Linked DNA regions of Homo sapiens: all the other regions are reported to be linked to region 3. The links are microRNA targets in miRTarBase. Many come from high-throughput screens and were not tested one by one. Region 3 holds a microRNA gene; each other region holds the end of a gene's coding sequence.
What was found. The annotated mature microRNA hsa-miR-4683 reads UGGAGAUCCAGUGCUCGCCCGAU and lies in region 3 at 2,268-2,290, shown strand. An mRNA with a match to its seed (bases 2 to 7 or 8) in the 3' UTR can be bound and repressed. Matches are read on the target gene's strand: a 7mer-m8 pairs with bases 2 to 8, a 7mer-A1 pairs with bases 2 to 7 and ends in A, and an 8mer does both.

Region 1: miRTarBase lists TNFRSF10A as a target of hsa-miR-4683. Seed matches in the 3' UTR shown: 7mer-m8 at 1,453-1,459.
Region 2: miRTarBase lists TERF2 as a target of hsa-miR-4683. Seed matches in the 3' UTR shown: 7mer-m8 at 2,396-2,402.

What each region holds. Positions count from the first base shown.
Region 1 is chr8:23,189,186-23,192,433 of GRCh38, reverse strand. TNFRSF10A (TNF receptor superfamily member 10a) reads left to right here. Exons shown (of 10, transcript NM_003844.4): 10 at 421-1,982. The coding sequence ends at 740. Among named protein-coding and RNA genes, the nearest start is that of TNFRSF10D, 27 kb to the right of the region's middle.
Region 2 is chr16:69,354,195-69,357,398 of GRCh38, forward strand. It overlaps TERF2 (telomeric repeat binding factor 2), which reads right to left. Exons shown (of 10, transcript NM_005652.5): 10 at 1,373-2,862. The coding sequence ends at 2,704. Among named protein-coding and RNA genes, the nearest start is that of TMED6, 4.0 kb to the left of the region's middle.
Region 3 is chr10:35,640,223-35,643,470 of GRCh38, reverse strand. MIR4683 (microRNA 4683) reads left to right here and starts at 2,219; the gene lies at 2,219-2,299. It overlaps FZD8 (frizzled class receptor 8), which reads left to right and starts at 1,175. Exons shown (of 1, transcript NM_031866.3): 1 at 1,175-3,248. The coding sequence starts at 2,042. LOC124902528 (zinc finger protein 469-like) reads left to right here and starts at 625. Exons shown (of 2, transcript XM_047426128.1): 1 at 625-841; 2 at 1,058-1,743. The coding sequence starts at 625. The coding sequence ends at 1,743. It overlaps LOC105376494 (a long non-coding RNA gene), which reads right to left and starts at 156. Exons shown (of 2, transcript XR_930820.3): 1 at 1-156. RefSeq lists a silencer at 2,627-2,716 and an enhancer at 2,827-2,986.

The DNA of each region.
Region 1 (3,248 bases), not on the chromosome of region 3:
TTCCACAGATGCAGAAGTGGCCACCCTGGGACATGCTCCCATGACAAGCGCAGCCCAGGCAGCCCGCATCCTCTGAGCTCCCGCTGCAGCCACTCTCCCTCCCTCCCTCGGGCTCTCACCCACTTTGCTTTCTGCCTCCGTAGGGTCAATCCATCCTCCCCAGGTGGGTTCTCAGCCCTCTCTGAGGGCAGATTCTCTGGTGACCTTGACGCCCGTCAGCGCCTTGGGGGCCACAGAGGCCAGGCAGTGTGGGTGGGCTCTCTGTGGATGGGAGGTGGGTGGGCAATGGAGCAACAGGTTTGCCCATGCAGGGGGCTCTCCAGGTTCTCTCCTTGGGTTCTGGGCCTGATGTGGGATCCTCTGCCCCTTCTGAACTGAGTCCCAACTCATCTGGCTGTCTCTGTGGCTTTCTCCACCCAGCTCTGATGCTGTTCTTTGACAAGTTTGCAAACATCGTGCCCTTTGACTCCTGGGACCAGCTCATGAGGCAGCTGGACCTCACGAAAAATGAGATCGATGTGGTCAGAGCTGGTACAGCAGGCCCAGGGGATGCCTTGTATGCAATGCTGATGAAATGGGTCAACAAAACTGGACGGAACGCCTCGATCCACACCCTGCTGGATGCCTTGGAGAGGATGGAAGAGAGACATGCAAGAGAGAAGATTCAGGACCTCTTGGTGGACTCTGGAAAGTTCATCTACTTAGAAGATGGCACAGGCTCTGCCGTGTCCTTGGAGTGAAAGACTCTTTTTACCAGAGGTTTCCTCTTAGGTGTTAGGAGTTAATACATATTAGGTTTTTTTTTTTTTTAACATGTATACAAAGTAAATTCTTAGCCAGGTGTAGTGGCTCATGCCTGTAATCCCAGCACTTTGGGAGGCTGAGGCGGGTGGATCACTTGAGGTCAGAAGTTCAAGACCAGCCTGACCAACATCGTGAAATGCCGTCTTTACAAAAAAATACAAAAATTAACTGGATGTGATGGTGTGTGCATATATTCTCGGCTACTCGGGAGGCTGAGGCAGGAGAATCACTTGAACCCACGAGGCAGTGAGCTGAGATTGCACCACTGCACTCCAGCCTGGGACACAGAGCAAGACTCTGTCTCAAGATAAAATAAAATAAACTTGAAAGAATTATTGCCCGACTGAGGCTCACATGCCAAAGGAAAATCTGGTTCTCCCCTGAGCTGGCCTCCGTGTGTTTCCTTATCATGGTGGTCAATTGGAGGTGTTAATTTGAATGGATTAAGGAACACCTAGAACACTGGTAAGGCATTATTTCTGGGACATTATTTCTGGGCATGTCTTCGAGGGTGTTTCCAGAGGGGATTGGCATGCGATCGGGTGGACTGAGTGGAAAAGACCTACCCTTAATTTGGGGGGGCACCGTCCGACAGACTGGGGAGCAAGATAGAAGAAAACAAAAAAAAAAGGAAAAGCAAATCCATCTGATCTCCTGGAGCTGGGACACTCTTCTGCCTGTGGACATCAGAGTCTAGGATTTCTAGCCCTTGGACTCCAGGGCATACACCAGTGGCCTCCCGAAGGATCTAAGGATTTTGGCCTTGAACTAAGAATTACACCATCGGCTTCCCTGGGTCTTAGGTTTTTGGGCTGGATTAAGTCCTGCTTCCAGCATTTCAGGGTCTCTGCTGTGCAGATGGCCTGTTGTGGAACTTCTCAACCTCCATTATCAGATGCATTAATTCCTCCAATAAGTCCCATTTCATATATAGTCATTTACCCCACAACATTTCAGTCAAGGGAACAGCATATAAGATGGTGGCCGTCCAGTAAGCTAAGGTTAATTTATTAATTATTTAATTTATTTACCTTGAGTTCAAGTCACAATTAAAGTACATATACCTTTGGAAATTTGGACTTTTGTATATAAAAGTACTTTTTTTTGGCGGGGGCAGTGGGCAGCTCTCATCCTAAACAAATGTGTTATTTGGTACCTATGCAAAGATTTGGTTAAAAGAAAGAAAAGAATTGCTTCCATAAATGGAGCATTTTCTTAGAAAAACTGGAGCCCATCTAAATGTTTTTCAAGGTCACGTGATCTGAGATAATCTTTAGTAAATAGAAAGCTAGTTTAAGTTTCTTGGTTTAATTAAAACAGACAATTCTTAAGAGTTGTCAACATTATTTACAGTTCACACATACAACTTCTACCTGGATTTACTAATCAAAACACTTACGTGTGGCCGGGCATGGTGGCTCACGCCTGTAATCCCAGCACTTTGGGAGGCCGAGGTGGGTGGATCACAGGGTCAGGAGATCAAGACCATCCTGGTTAACACGGTGAAACCCCGTCTCTACTAAAAATACAAAAAATTAGCCGGGCGTGGTGGTGGGTGCCTGTAGTCCCAGCTACTCGGGAGGCCGAGGCAGCAGAATGGCGTGAACCTGGGAGGCTGAGCTTGCAGTGAGCCGAGATCGTGCCACTGCACTCCAGCCTGGGTGACAGAGCGAGACTCCGACTCAAAAAAAAAGAACACTTATGTGTCTTTAAGATCATAAAACTGTAAATTCAACTGAAGAACAAAATGCACAAGGAAAAGATAAATTTCTTGATATATATGAAACACAAGAAAGAAAAAGAAGATTGAAAAGAGCCATATGTTTTCAATGTATGTTTCTTTGTATTTTGTGTGTTTTTATGTGTTTATTTTTGTGTTTTTTTATGTTATGTGATGTTTGTGTATTTTTGATATTTTTATAAGATGTCTACCTCCTTTTTTTTTTTTTTGAGACAGAGTCTCTTGTCACCCAGACTGGAGTGCAGTGGCAACGATCTCCACTCACTGCAAGCTCCGCCTCCTGGGTTCACACCATTCTCCTGCCTCAGCCTCCTGAGTAACTGGGACTACAGGCACCCACCACCAAACCTGGCTAATTTTTTGTATTTTTAGTAGAGACAGGGTTTCACCGTGTTAACCAGGATGGTCTGGATCTCCTGACCTCGTGATCCACCCACCTCGGCCTCCCAAAGTGCTGGGATTATGGGCGTGAGCCACTGCACCTAGCCAAGATGTCTACTTTTAAATATTTTTATATTTAATTTTTGGTAACTTAAAAATCTTATATTAACCTAAGTTAAATGATGGTTATTTGTATTAGTCTGTTTTCTGTTGCTATCACTGAATACCTCAGAGTAGGGAGTGGGTAATTTATAAAGAAAATAAATTTATGTATTATGGTTCTTGGGGCTAGGAAGTCCAAGGGCAGTCAACAGGCCAAATC
Region 2 (3,204 bases), not on the chromosome of region 3:
TGATTAGGATATTTTGTTTCCCTAAATGCATCAGTTTCACTCCTCTACCTGGAGAGCACCATTGACTCACATGAGAGTTAAGGGGAGAAAAGCTTCTGGATTCTAATCCGGTTCAGAGGGAGACCAAACCAGCTGCAGGCAGAAGGCGGCTAGCCTGAAAGGAGCTCAAGTTCTCAACTTCTCCCTGTGGTTTCAGTTGGGGTTGGTTGATAGAAGAACAATAGGTACTAAACCCCAAAATGCAGTTAATAGGTAATAAAGCTGTATGAAGTTTCCAACTTGTAACTAATGGATGAATTTTTTTTTTTTTTGAGATGGAGTCTCACTCTATCACCCAGGCTGGAGTGCAGTGGTGCGATCTCGGTTTATTGCAACCGCCACCTCCCCGGTTCAAGCGATTCTCCTGCCTCAGCCTTCCGAGTAGCTGGGACTACAGGCGCCTGCCACCATGCCTGGCTAATTTTGTATTTTTCAAAATTTTTAATTTTAAACTTTTTTTTTTTTTTTTTGAGAAGGAGTTTTGCTCTTTTTGCCCAGGCTGGAGTGCAATGGCACCATCTCCGCTCATCACAACCTCCGCCTCCCAAGTTCAAGCAATTCTCCTGCCTCAGCCTCCCGAGAGGTCGGGATTACAGGCGCCTGCCACCATGGCTGGCTAAGTTTTTGTATTTTTAGTAGAGATGGGGTTTCACCATGTTGGCCAGGCTGGTCTTGAACTCCTGACCTCAGGTGATCCTACCCTTCTTGGCCTCGCAAAGTGCTGGGATTACAGGGGTGAGCCATGGCTCCCAGCCAGTTTTGTTTTGTTTTGAGATAGAGTCTCGCTTTGTTGCCCAGGCTGGAGTGCAGTGGCATGATCTTGGCTCGTTGCAACCTCCATCTCCCGAGTTCAAGCGATTCTTGTGCCTCAGCCTCCTGAATAGCTGGGATTACAGGCACCCGCCACCACGCCCAGCTAATTTTTGTATTTTTAGTACATAGGGTTTTACTATGTTGGCCGCGCTGGTCTCGAACTCCTGACCTCAAGTGATCCTCCTGCCTCGGCCTCCCAGAGTGCTGGGATTACAGGCATTAGCCACCATGCCTGGCCTAATGGATGAATTTTAAAACTTTAGCATTTCTTTAAGCCTTGCCTTTCACTCACTCAGAAGTGAGAAAGGGGGAATTCTTTTGTCCCCAGAAATGATATATGAGGAAACTGAAAGGTTAAGAGGAAACTTCCATATCATCTGTTTGACATAGCTTCCAAGGATTAAAACATTCAATAAAGTCTGACATCAGCTTCTTGATCAAAATAGTTCAGCAAAGTTTAACATTTTGCTACCTCCCTCTGTGGATACATGCTGTGCTGCAATTAAACAGCTACTTACAGTTGAGAGAAGCAAGACTTTAATGAAGAATGCTACAAGTATGGACAATAATTAGTTCTCACCTTTTAAAAAAAGATTACAGAAAACACTTTACTGAAATTTTTTGCTAAAAAGACAGTCTTTAAGGGTGTCCGGGAGAGACAGCAAGCACAACACAGTACAAAAGGAGAAGGGAATGTTGAATTCCAGTGCAAGACACGAACACAGCACAATTAGGGAATCAGGAGGAAGCAACCATTTCACAAAGAATGAAATTAGGCATTTATATTCAATCGGATTTTTTTTAAGCTTTAAAAGTCCAGCATAAGGAAGGGAATTGGGAAAAGAGGCAGGGGACAGGGGGCAGGGGATCAGGGAACTAATCTTATCTACAATCACCATTTTACCAAAAAACACACTGGTTCAACCACATGAGAAGTGGAGGATTAACCTGCCTACATAGCCCAGCAGATGTTGACAGCAAATGCCAAGGCAGACAGGTCTAGGGTTGATGTCACGACTGGCTAAAGAGTTTTTAAAGGGAATCTTATTCCACAAGGACTGGTCTGTCATCAACCTGGGTTCATAACAGACTAAGTTCCTTTGCATTTGCATCAGAAGGCCAGAACTTGACGTGGAACAAATTTACTCCAAATAATACTCACATTGCTGGTTTTAACAGGTCATGGAGTCACAAGTGGCTCCTAATAGACTTCACCATTTCCTAGGAGAAGGTTCTACAGATTACCAGGGATTTAAATTTAAGCAAACCACTAAAGAAGGGAAACGCTAATGATATTCTGGCACTGCACAAGCTGTGTGCCTGTCATCTCTGCCAAGGACATGGGTGGACTTGGCTCTGCTTCTTAGCTCCATGATCTCCAACAGTGATGAAGTGGAAATGGGACCTCCCCCACGTCGAAGGAGGTTGCCCAAAATTCTCATCCCAGCCCAGCTTCTGAAAGAAACAGCAGATGCCAGGCGCGGTGGCTCATGCCTGTAATCCCAGCACTTTGGGAGGCCGAGTTGGGTGGATCACGAGGTCAGGAGATCGAGACCATCCTGGCTAACACGGTGAAACCCCGTCTCTACTAAAAATACAAAACATTAGCCGGGCGTGATGGCGGGCGCCTGTAGTCCCAGCTACTCGGGAGGCTGAGGCAGGAGAATGGCGTGAGCCCGGGAGACGGAGGTCGCAGTGAGCCGAGATCACGCCACTGCACTCCAGCCTGGGTGACAGAGCGAGACTCTGTCTCAAAAAAAAAAAAAAAAGAAAAAGAAAGAAAGAGCAGACTATCAGGGGCTATTATTAGGAACCATGCTCCTGTGAATTCTGTGGAAATGAAAGCCTGTTTCAGTTCATGCCAAGTCTTTTCATGGTCCGCCAGCGATCCTTAATCATCACAGCTGTTCGGTTAACAAATGGGTAATTTTTAGAAATGGCAGCCCAGTTTCCTTCCCCATATTTCTGCACTCCAGCCTTGACCCACTCGCTTTCTTCTACAGTCCACTTCTGCAAAAGAAAACCAAAAGATTTATTACCACCTTTCCTCTCCACTTACTTACATTTTCTCCAATGTAGTGATAAGGTAAACTCAAGAATCCCAGGAGAATCATCTGAACCTGAAATCACAGCTTATGTTTTTAAACATGGAATGGACAAGATATGAGCACTGTGGATCTGGACACAGGAATTCTTGATGTCCTGCCATTTGATCCTCAAGTAACAATCACTTCTGCATTCCAAACTGCAAACATATCTACATCATTCATGTTCCGGAAAATGTGTCATCTGTTTTCCTAGTCTTTTCTTCCAGAAGATAATTATTACTTTAACTTAGTTTGGATTATCTGA
Region 3 (3,248 bases):
AACAAGCGTAAATGAACCTGCCAGGCCGCCGGCCCGGGCCGCCCGCAGCCCCCCTCCCGGCCCGTCTTAAGGTGGCGGCGGAGCCGGCGGGGGCAGCGTTCGCTGGCGGTGGCCCAAGCGGCTGCTAAAAGCAGCCCGGGTCCGGCTCCGGCCTCGTGCAGAGAGCAGATACGTGTCGCGGAGTCCACGCCAGAGCGCAGCGCCGCCTCCCACCAGAGAAAAGGAGGCTCTGGCAAAAGCCTGTGAACTTGGGATGGATGAATAGACGTCCTGAAAGAACGAAGGGAAGACAGGGAATCCAGCCCCAGAGTTTCCAGCCTGTCCTATTTATAAGTTTCGAGGTTTGTTTTGAATTTTAGAAAGAAATTGAATGATTTTTCCTAAGAAAGCACGGCGGCTCGGGGCTTCCTATATTTTATCTCACCTAATTATCAAAGCCCCCTTGGAGATCTGTGCTATGATCACCCAACTCTCTAGGTGGGGAAACTGAGGCTCCCCCAGGTCACGCAGCGGAGGCGGGAGGAGAGTCTCTGGCGGGCATTTGTCCCCCGCGCCCCTCGCGCGCCCAAGGCTGGGCTCCGGGGCATCTCACCCGGGCCGTCCCGGGTCCAGCCCCAGTTTAGAATGACTCCACACCCCCCACATCTCCAAGTCTCAGAAACCATCGTTCTGAGAACCCCAAGGAGGACACCCTTTCCCGGGTCTTCTGCAGCGCCGAGCCCCGGCAGGCCTCCCCGGCGCTCGCCTGCTGCGAGACCTTCCTGCCGCCCCGAGGAGCACGAGACCCCAGCCGCCTGCAGATCACCCACATTTGCGGAGGGTGGCAGCAGGGGCTTGGCTGGTTTGAAACGCGCCGGGGAGGCGCGCGCTGCACCAAACCCCGTCCCTGTCCCCAAGGGCAGACTCGGGGTAAGGGGACCAAGACCTCCGACGCACTCAGCGCCATGGGGACAGCCATGGCCAACACTCTGTCTCTGCGGTCAATCCCAAGGTTACCAAAACTCTCCATCCGCAGAGAGCGCGCACAGCAGTGCGGACACTCGGGGACTGCCTTAAGGAAGGCTGAGCCCTGGGAGCGCGTGGACTCCGCCCTACCGCCCGGCGATTGGCTCGCGGGGCTGGGGGCGGAGACCGAGTCCGCGCTGTATAAATATTCATGAGCCGGCAGCGCGGCGCGAGCGGGGCTGGAGCCGGGAAGTTGGGCTAAGGGCGCTGCTCCCGCCGAGGAGGAGGCGGCGGCTGGGCGCGGGCCGCGCCACTCAGGTGTCCGCTCCGCCTTCCGGTCTGGATTTGCTCCTGGGTGTCCAGCAGGAAGGAGACTGTGTGCACCTCGCCCGACTGCGGCCGGAGCGCGGCGCTGACTTTTCCAGGCGGCGGGGGTCCGTCTGTCCCGGCGGCGGACGGACGAAGGACGGACGCCGGAGAAAGAGGGCGGCGGCCTGGGCCGAGGCGGGTCCCCAACTCCGGCGGCGGCGGCGGCGGCTTGGCCTTGGGGGCGGGCATGAGCCCCCGGGGGCCGAGTGGTGGCCGCCAGGGCTGACCCGGCGCGGCAAGCGGCCCGGCCCAGCCATCTTGACTGCGCACCGCGGCCCCAGAGGAAACTTGCGGCGCCTCCGCCCTCTCTGTCCGGCGGAGTCACCGCCGCCCGGCGCGGCGGGGAGAAGTGGTCGGGCGCGCGGAGAGGAGGCGAGCGAGCGCGGGACGATGAGCCGAGGCCCGGCCGCTCTGCGCCGCGAGGGCTGAGCGCGACCCGGGGCCAGCAGAGCGGACCTACGGACTGTGGCGCGCGCCTGCAGCCGCCTTCAAACCCCCGGAGCGGCGGAAAGGAGTGCGGAAGGGCCCTGCCCAGGCTGCGGGCCGCGCCGCTGCGGACGCGCCCCTAGAAGGGGTTAGATTATCGGCAGACCCCCCTCCCGGGCGAAGCATAAGGGAGACCCCAGATCACCCGCTGTACCCGTCTGCGGCTCTCTCGTGGGCCCCCCCCCCGGCACCCCTCTGCGCGCCGCCTGGAGGGCGAGGGCACCGGGCCGAGGCGCACAGCATGGAGTGGGGTTACCTGTTGGAAGTGACCTCGCTGCTGGCCGCCTTGGCGCTGCTGCAGCGCTCTAGCGGCGCTGCGGCCGCCTCGGCCAAGGAGCTGGCATGCCAAGAGATCACCGTGCCGCTGTGTAAGGGCATCGGCTACAACTACACCTACATGCCCAATCAGTTCAACCACGACACGCAAGACGAGGCGGGCCTGGAGGTGCACCAGTTCTGGCCGCTGGTGGAGATCCAGTGCTCGCCCGATCTCAAGTTCTTCCTGTGCAGCATGTACACGCCCATCTGCCTAGAGGACTACAAGAAGCCGCTGCCGCCCTGCCGCTCGGTGTGCGAGCGCGCCAAGGCCGGCTGCGCGCCGCTCATGCGCCAGTACGGCTTCGCCTGGCCCGACCGCATGCGCTGCGACCGGCTGCCCGAGCAAGGCAACCCTGACACGCTGTGCATGGACTACAACCGCACCGACCTAACCACCGCCGCGCCCAGCCCGCCGCGCCGCCTGCCGCCGCCGCCGCCCGGCGAGCAGCCGCCTTCGGGCAGCGGCCACGGCCGCCCGCCGGGGGCCAGGCCCCCGCACCGCGGCGGCGGCAGGGGCGGTGGCGGCGGGGACGCGGCGGCGCCCCCAGCTCGCGGCGGCGGCGGTGGCGGGAAGGCGCGGCCCCCTGGCGGCGGCGCGGCTCCCTGCGAGCCCGGGTGCCAGTGCCGCGCGCCTATGGTGAGCGTGTCCAGCGAGCGCCACCCGCTCTACAACCGCGTCAAGACAGGCCAGATCGCTAACTGCGCGCTGCCCTGCCACAACCCCTTTTTCAGCCAGGACGAGCGCGCCTTCACCGTCTTCTGGATCGGCCTGTGGTCGGTGCTCTGCTTCGTGTCCACCTTCGCCACCGTCTCCACCTTCCTTATCGACATGGAGCGCTTCAAGTACCCGGAGCGGCCCATTATCTTCCTCTCGGCCTGCTACCTCTTCGTGTCGGTGGGCTACCTAGTGCGCCTGGTGGCGGGCCACGAGAAGGTGGCGTGCAGCGGTGGCGCGCCGGGCGCGGGGGGCGCTGGGGGCGCGGGCGGCGCGGCGGCGGGCGCGGGCGCGGCGGGCGCGGGCGCGGGCGGCCCGGGCGGGCGCGGCGAGTACGAGGAGCTGGGCGCGGTGGAGCAGCACGTGCGCTACGAGACCACCGGCCCCGCGCTGTGCACCGTGGTCTTCTTGCTGG